Homo sapiens: one gene and its partner. The protein of the gene in region 2 purifies or fractionates together with the protein of the main gene of each other region. This does not show direct contact. Each region holds a gene or a part of one and is shown on either strand. Other genes may lie near its edges. The genes, in order: GLI3 and SKIL.

Region 1 (3,820 bases), on a different chromosome or scaffold from region 2:
CTTCAATGGGATTACATTACTATCATTCCTGCAGAGAACCTTACATTACAATAGCTTGCCCATTTAAGACTGAATATCATTAAGAATACCCTAGGAGAATTTCACCAGGCTTTGAGAAACTCTCCTTTCATTCTACATTGTATTTCCTTAATAAAGGAAAGCAGAAACGTGGTGAAAACAGTCATTGTTCACAGTAAGTTAGGGAGAAATCAGTAATAATATTCCGTTTCTGCAGCGTTATAGTTACTGCCAGTGTTTCCAAAAGCAAGCATGAATGATTATGGCAAGACTTAGCTAAGGTAGCTGTGTGGATGATTGATAGGGCATTAATCAAAAGATGCATATCTGCCTCAGAATTTGTTCACAAGCTTTCTTCTAATAGCTGATTTCATGTTCACTGAGCTCTATGCCAGTTTGTCCAATTTATTTTTCAGTGTACAAGCCATTCATCAAAAAACACAATGATTTAACAGCCCCCCTTCCTTTGGGTGAATGAGTATTACTAAGTGTAACTACGTTATTCTATTCATTAAATAAACAAAAACCAAAATAACCCACTTCACATATAATTACCATGGCACACCGACTTTGCATGTATCTCCAAACACCTTTCCAGGGTTCTAGGAGCCTAGACTATCTGGCAGAGTTGAAAGAGGGTCCCTGAAGGTCATTTATACTTCTAATTCTGGGAGACACGACATTTGGGGGCTTAAAAAATCAGTACTTAATTAAAAATAGAGACCATTCAGAAAACATGCCCTTGATTTTATACAAAAGCAACTCAAAAGCATTCACAGACGGATAAGGGAAGTGCATTTTAAAAAAGATGTAGGAGGCCGGGCGCGGTGGCTCACGCCTGTAATCCCAGCACTTTGGGAGGTTGAGGCGGGTGGGTCACCTGAGGTCAGGAGTTCGAGACAAGCCTGACCAACATGGCGAAACCTCGTTTCTACTAAAAATACAAAAATTAGCCAGGCGTGATGGCATGCACCTGTAATCCCAGCTGCTCGAGAGTCTGAGGCAGGAGAATCACTTGAACTGGAGAGGCGGAGGTTGCGGTGAGCCAAGATCGCGCCACTGCACTCCAGCCTGGGTGACAGAGCAAGACTCCGTCTCAAAAATAAATAATAATAATAATAATAATAATAATAAATAAAAATAAAGAAATAAAAAGATGTAGGAGATATCCTTACAAAAGATAAGACTCAGCATTCCCACCGCAGTTTCCTAGGTCTACGATCCTCCTTGTCCTCGGGGAGCAGGGGTAGGGGTTCTGAAAGCTCTTCACATACTTTGGCCATATCCCCATTCAGGGCCTCCACCTTTTTGCTGGTAAAACCAGGTGACGGGAATAAATGTTCTCTAAAATCCACATCAACAATTAGACTGCAAGGGCTATGAGGGAACACACAGTGGACGGTGATCCTGAGCCTTCAGTGCTTATTCATAAGAAGCCAGCAACAGAAACATTCTCCTCCTCCTCGTGCACAGACCTGGGCCAGGGCAGGGTATGGGACAGCTTGTCTGGACCCAGAAGGGCTGGCCCTCGACCTTCTGCTGCTGCTCCTGCCAGGGACTGTGCGCAGGAAGGCTGCTCCACTCCAGATGACAAAGCCAATTTAGAATTTGATGACAAAAGTAGAAAGTTCTCAGCTCTGACACAGTATCACTTAACAGATTTGGGAGTCAAGGCTCCTCTGCTCTCAGAACACTGCCATCAGAGTGCTGGGGCAGAGGACGGGCGATGACTGGGCACAGCAAACGGATGTCAAGAGTCGCAGACAAAATGCCCATGAGAAAGGATGCCTCCCACGCATACCCTCAACTCTCTTGGGCAAGATCAAGGTATGAAAAGATTCTCCTGAGGTTTTCCCACTAGGGGGATAAGAAAACCTGAGCCACCACAGCCTCCTCCTTTAAATCAAGGTGGGGAGGGCCGTGGAGGAGGGGAGTCCTGCATCCTTTTGCCTCCTGTCACAGCATGAGTCCCTCTGCATCTTCAGCACTCACAGTGTCCCCTGCCTGGAACCCTTGGCTTCCAGAGCTCACAATGGCCACTTCCTTTTTTACATTCACGTTCCAGCTTAAATGTCACCTCCTCAGAGGGGCCTTCTTAGACTCATGCCCCATCAAAACGAGGCCCCTCTGCACCTCCTTGCCCCATCGTTTTCTACTGCGTGACAATTCTATTCTCATGGCAGCACGCAGTACTCTCTAAAACTCTTTCTGTCTCTCTGTCTAGGAGGCAAGGTCCAGCTGGGCCGGGCAGTGTGCCTGGCAGAGCAGACACGCAGTACTGAGTCAATGAGTGACTGAATCCATTCTTCAGTGTCTATTAGTTCCCTGTTGCTGCTGCAACAAACAGCCCAAACTGAGTGGCTTAAAAAAACAGACACTGTTTATTACCTTACAGTTCTGGAAGTCAGAAGTCTGCAATAGGCCGGCGGGGCTGCATTATTCCAGACGGTCTAGGCTCCCTGCCTGTTCCATTACCTGGAGGCTGCCCACATTCCTTGGCTCAGGGGTCCACATCACTCAGGCCTCCTCCTCCTCCTCCTCTGACCCTAACTTGCCTCTCCTGCTTCCCTCTCACAGGGGACCCTGTGATTACATCACTGCCACCCGGATAATCGAGGATCATCTTCTCATCTCAAGATCCTTAGCTTAATCACACCTGCAAAAGTCGTTCTGGCATGGAAGGTAACCTATTCACAGGTCCTGGGGATTAGGATGTGGACATCTTTGGGGCCGTTATCCTGCCTACCACACTCAAAAGAGTCACCTCAAAGAAAACTATGTTTTCCTCTGAAAACTACAATTTGACAACATGTCTGTAAAGCAGTATTACACAAACGAAGCTAGTGTCTACATCCATTTCTTTCTGCAGCACTTCAATGGCACAGGACAGACTTTGCTGATTAAAGATATCAGAATTAAAAACAGAAGGTAAATTCTATTTTTAGGGGCCCTGAATAAGAACCTTCCTAAATAGTTCATGTATTCATTCCACAATTTCCTACAAATAGAAATTATTACTATTGTTGATTTGTTTTTTTTTTTTTTGTTTTTTTGTTTCTTGTTTTTTTTTTGAGATGGAGACTCGTTCTGTCTCCCAGGCTGGAGTGCAGTGGCACGATCTCAGCTCACTGAAACCTCCGCCTCCCAGGTTCAAGCGATTCTCCTGCCTCAGCCTCCCGAGCAGCTGGGATTACAGGCATGCACCACCATGCCCAGCTAATTTTTGTATTTTTAGTAGAGATGGGGTTTCACCATGTTGGCCAGGCTAGTCTTGAACTCCTGACCTCAAGTGATCCGGCCGCCTCGGCCTCCCAAGGTGCTGGGATTACAGGCATGAGCCACCACACCCAGGCATAGTTGAAATTGTTAATAATCTCTTATACCTTCTCTAGAGCAGGACATAATCTACAGTCTAAACCTTGGTACCTGTGCTTCCCATCCTCATAGCCTCCATGTTTCTGTTCACCCCACTCTTTCCAATGAGTCACCAGAAATTAATTTTACATTCTGATTCTGAATTCTCTGCATTCAACAATTAATCTGTTATTATTTCTAAAATTACTTTTATAGCTTTTGTTTCTAAATAACTATATGAAAGATGGGGTAATTTAAGACAATAACAACAAACATTTATAAAAATGTGACCTGTAACTGTTAATCTATATTTAGTCAATAAGATCAGTAGAAAGAAAGTGTTAGATGGCCCAGATCTTCCCAAGCAACGTGCTAACACAGTCAGAGGCCTCCTGAGGTGAGTAAGTGTAATGGAGAGAAAGAGAAAGAAGTACCAAGGTCATCAAAC
Region 2 (3,820 bases):
TCTGCCAACTATGTGATTTAAAAGGCGCTATCAATTTTAATTGTTTTGTTTTTCCATTTAATCCTCATATCATAGAAAATATCTATTTTCAAATTACTTTTTACAAAACGAACTATTTCATGTATACTAAATCCATTAAGCATCTAATACTATTAATCTGACATCTGACAGGACACTAAATTTAAGAAAAAGCAAAGGAACAAGAGGAAGGAACACATCCAGCATGTTCATGTTCATTATGCCCTATACTTTACTATACCGCTCATCACAGCCTGCTCATGTTAGTTATTTGTTCATGTTCCTTAAATTGTGAGATTCTATTAACAAAAGAGAATTGCTTATTTTTGCTCCAGTGCTTTTGAACATAACAGGCAACAGTTCCTGTTTGTTAATTTGTAGATTTGAAAGCTCATATACTACATTAAAATAATATAACATATAATATTCAGAGGGCTAGAGATTAGCAATTTAGGTAACTAAACTGCAGTAACCCGATAAAAATTTAAACTAATAAAAGCAACAAACATCAAAATAATCATCTTGGACAATACAGCATAAAGCTATGTTTAACAGAATTATCTATTTTGAAATCTAGCTTAGTAAACTGAGCTTGACAAAAAGTAATTCCTTTATTAGAGAAGTAACGGTGGCCGGGTGCAGTGGCTCATGCTTGTAATCCCAGCATTTTGGGAGGCTGAGGTGGGCAGATCATGAGGTCAGGAGTTCAAGACCAGACTGACCAACATGGTGAAACCCCGTCTCTACTAAAAAATACAAAATTTAGCTGGGCATAGTGTCGCACGCCTGTAATCCCAGCTACAATCAGGAGGCTGAGGCAGGAAAATTGCTTGAACCCGGGAGGCAGAGGTTGTGGGGAGCTGAGATTGTGCCACTGCACTCCAGCCTGGGCGACAGAGCAGTCTCTGTCTCAAAAAAAAAAAAGAGAGAAGTAACAGTTTCCATTTCCATGCTGAAAGGGCACCATTATACAAACAGTAATTCTTACCTGTCCTGCATATTCAGCCTCTTTGTCTTTTTCTAAATTTGAGTCACAGGTACATTTTTGCTTCATTATCTGCTCCAATTTTTTCTCTAAGTCTTTCTGTTCAACATAAAATTCTTCCATTCTTTGAGCATGTTCATTCTGCAAAGATTCAAGCTCTTTCTGTAAATTCTGCTGTTCTTCAGTGAGTTCCTTCATAGATTTTGAACTACTCAACATTTTTACTTCCTGTAATGTAAAGAATCACAATACAAGTTTTACTTTATTTTCACCATGTTAAAATTTTCAGTTCTGGAAAACATAGCACAGAAAATACCTAAAATTCAGCTATCATTATCAGTTCTATATAGAGGTAATTATTTTAAAAAACTATTTTCTCAAAAAATTTTAAAATATATTAAAATTGCTTTTCAGTGTAAAACAATAATCTTAAGTACATTTGTAGCATCTCGTTTTGACTTTTCTTACTAAGAATATACAGGGGGGCTGGGCGCAGTGGCTCACACCTGTAATCCCAGCACTTTGGGAGGCCAAGGCTGGTGGATCACAAGGTCAAAAGTTCGAGCCTGGCCAGCATGGAGAAACCCCATCTCTACTAAGAATACAAAATTTAGCCAGGCATGGTGGCACGTGCCTGTAATGCTAGCTACTCGGAAGGCTAAGGCAGAAGAATTGCTTGAACCTGTGAGGTGGAGGTTTCAGTGAGCTGAGACTGCGCCACTGCACTCCAGCCTGGGCGACAGAGCAATATACAAAAGTATCTTTTCATAATGGACTATCATTTAGATAACAATTTTACCATCTGAAGTTGTTGCTTCTTTTGCAAAATCAAGTTTAGTTTTTCCTGTTGTTTTAAATAAGTTCTCATTACTTCTTCCATGATTTTTCCCTTATCATCCTCACAAATGACATCTTTCACAAGAAGCGGAGATGAAGCGGCAGCAACAAGGCCAATTCCCACTTTGTTTATGTCTCTGACTAAGTTGCAAGTGGCAGACTCAGATTTCCTTTTACTTGTAGAATTATTTGAGATTGATGCATCTTGGAGAGAAAAAAATCAAGTAACAAAGTATGAATATCACTCCATTAAAAAAATCACTAGAACAATCCATAAATGTAATTTTTAAAACATTTCATTTATAAATTAGACCAAAACAAATAAAATAGGAATAAATTTAACAAAAGCAGTGCAAGTACAATGAAAACTACAAAACATCACTAAAAGAAATTTAAGACCTAAATACATGGAAAGACATCCCAAATTCATGGATTGGAAGACTTAATATTGTTAAGACAGTAATAGTCTCCAAATTGATCTACTTATCAGTGCAATCCCTATCAAAATCCCCACTGGATTTTTTGCAGAAATTGAAAAGCAGTTTCTAAAATCCATATGGAAATGCAACAAACCCAAAATAGGCAAAATAATCTTGAAAAAGAATAACGAAGTTGAAAGACTCACAATTCCCAATTTCAAAGCTTACTACAAAGCTACAGAAATCAAGACTGTGTGACATGATTTAAAGATAGACATACAGATCAGTAGAACAGAATTCAGAGTCCAGAAATTTAAAAAACTCATACTTTATAAGGCAATTGTTGTTGACAAAGGTGCCAAAGCAATTCAGTCAGGAAAGAATAATCTTTTCTGGCCAGGCGCGGTGGCTCACGCCTGTAATCCCAGCACTTTGGGAGGCCGAGAAGGGCGGATCACGACGTCAGGAGATTGAGACCATCCTGGCTAACATGGTGAAACCCTGTCTCTACTAAAAAATACAAAAAATTTGCCAGGCTTGGTGGCGGGCGCCTGTAGTCCCAGCTACTCGGGAGGCTGAGGCAGAAGAATGGCGTGAACCTGGGAGGCGGAGCTTGCAGTGAGCCGAGATAGCGCCACTGCACTCCAGCCTGGGCAACAGAGCAAGACTCCGTCTCAAAAAAAAAAAAAAAGGAAAGAATAATCTTTTCAACATACGGACAACTATATCCACATGCAAAAGAATAAGGTTGGACCTTATGCTGTATACAAAAATTAACTCTAAACTGATCAAAGACCTAAATGTAAGAGCTACAACCCTTAAACATAAATTTCTTGGCTGGATGTGGTGGCTCACGCCTATAATCCCAGCACTTTGGGAGGCCGAGGCAGGTGGATTACCTGAGGTCAGGAGTTCACCACCAGCCTGACCAACATGGTAAAACTCTGTCTCTACTAAAAATACAAAAAAAATTAGCCAGGCATGGTGGCGCGCACCTGTAATCCCAGCTACTCAGGAGGCTGAGACAGAAAAATTGGTTGAACCCGGGAGGTGGAGGTTGCAGTGAGCTGAGATGGCACCACTGTACTCCAGCCTGGGCAACAGAGTGAGACTCTGTCTCAAAAATAAATAAATAAATAAATAAATACATAAATAAATATTTCTTGGAATTGGGATTAGGCAATAGTTTCTTAGATATGATACCTAAAACAAGAAAAAAATAGATAAATTGGATGTAATAAACATTTAAAACTTTTGTGCTTCAAAGAACACTAACACGGCCAAGCGCGGTGGCTCACACCAGTAATCCCAACACTTTGGGAGGCTGAGGCAGGTGGATTGCTTAAGCTCACGAGTTTGAGACCAGCCTCAACATGGCAAAACCCCAACTCCACCAAAAATACAAAAATTAGCCGAGCATGGTGGTACATCCCTGTAGTCCCAGCTACTTGGGAGGCTGAGGTGAAAGGATGGATTAAGCCCAGGAGGTAGAGGTTGCAGTGAGCCAAGCTGGGGTGATACAGCCAGACTTTGTCTCAGGAAAAAAAAAAGAACACTAACA

What was found.
Region 1: the proteins of SKIL (region 2) and GLI3 purify together in Homo sapiens (co-immunoprecipitation; one study listed by IntAct). This does not show direct contact.

Annotation. Positions count from the first base shown.
Region 1 is NC_000007.14:42,027,648-42,031,467, forward strand, and holds part of GLI3 (transcriptional activator GLI3), read right to left. Parts: intron 1-3,820. UniProt on the Homo sapiens protein: Has a dual function as a transcriptional activator and a repressor of the sonic hedgehog (Shh) pathway, and plays a role in limb development.
Region 2 is NC_000003.12:170,388,447-170,392,266, reverse strand, and holds part of SKIL (ski-like protein), read right to left. Parts: intron 2,045-3,820; coding exon 1,803-2,044; intron 1,232-1,802; coding exon 1,007-1,231; intron 9-1,006; coding exon 1-8. UniProt on the Homo sapiens protein: May have regulatory role in cell division or differentiation in response to extracellular signals.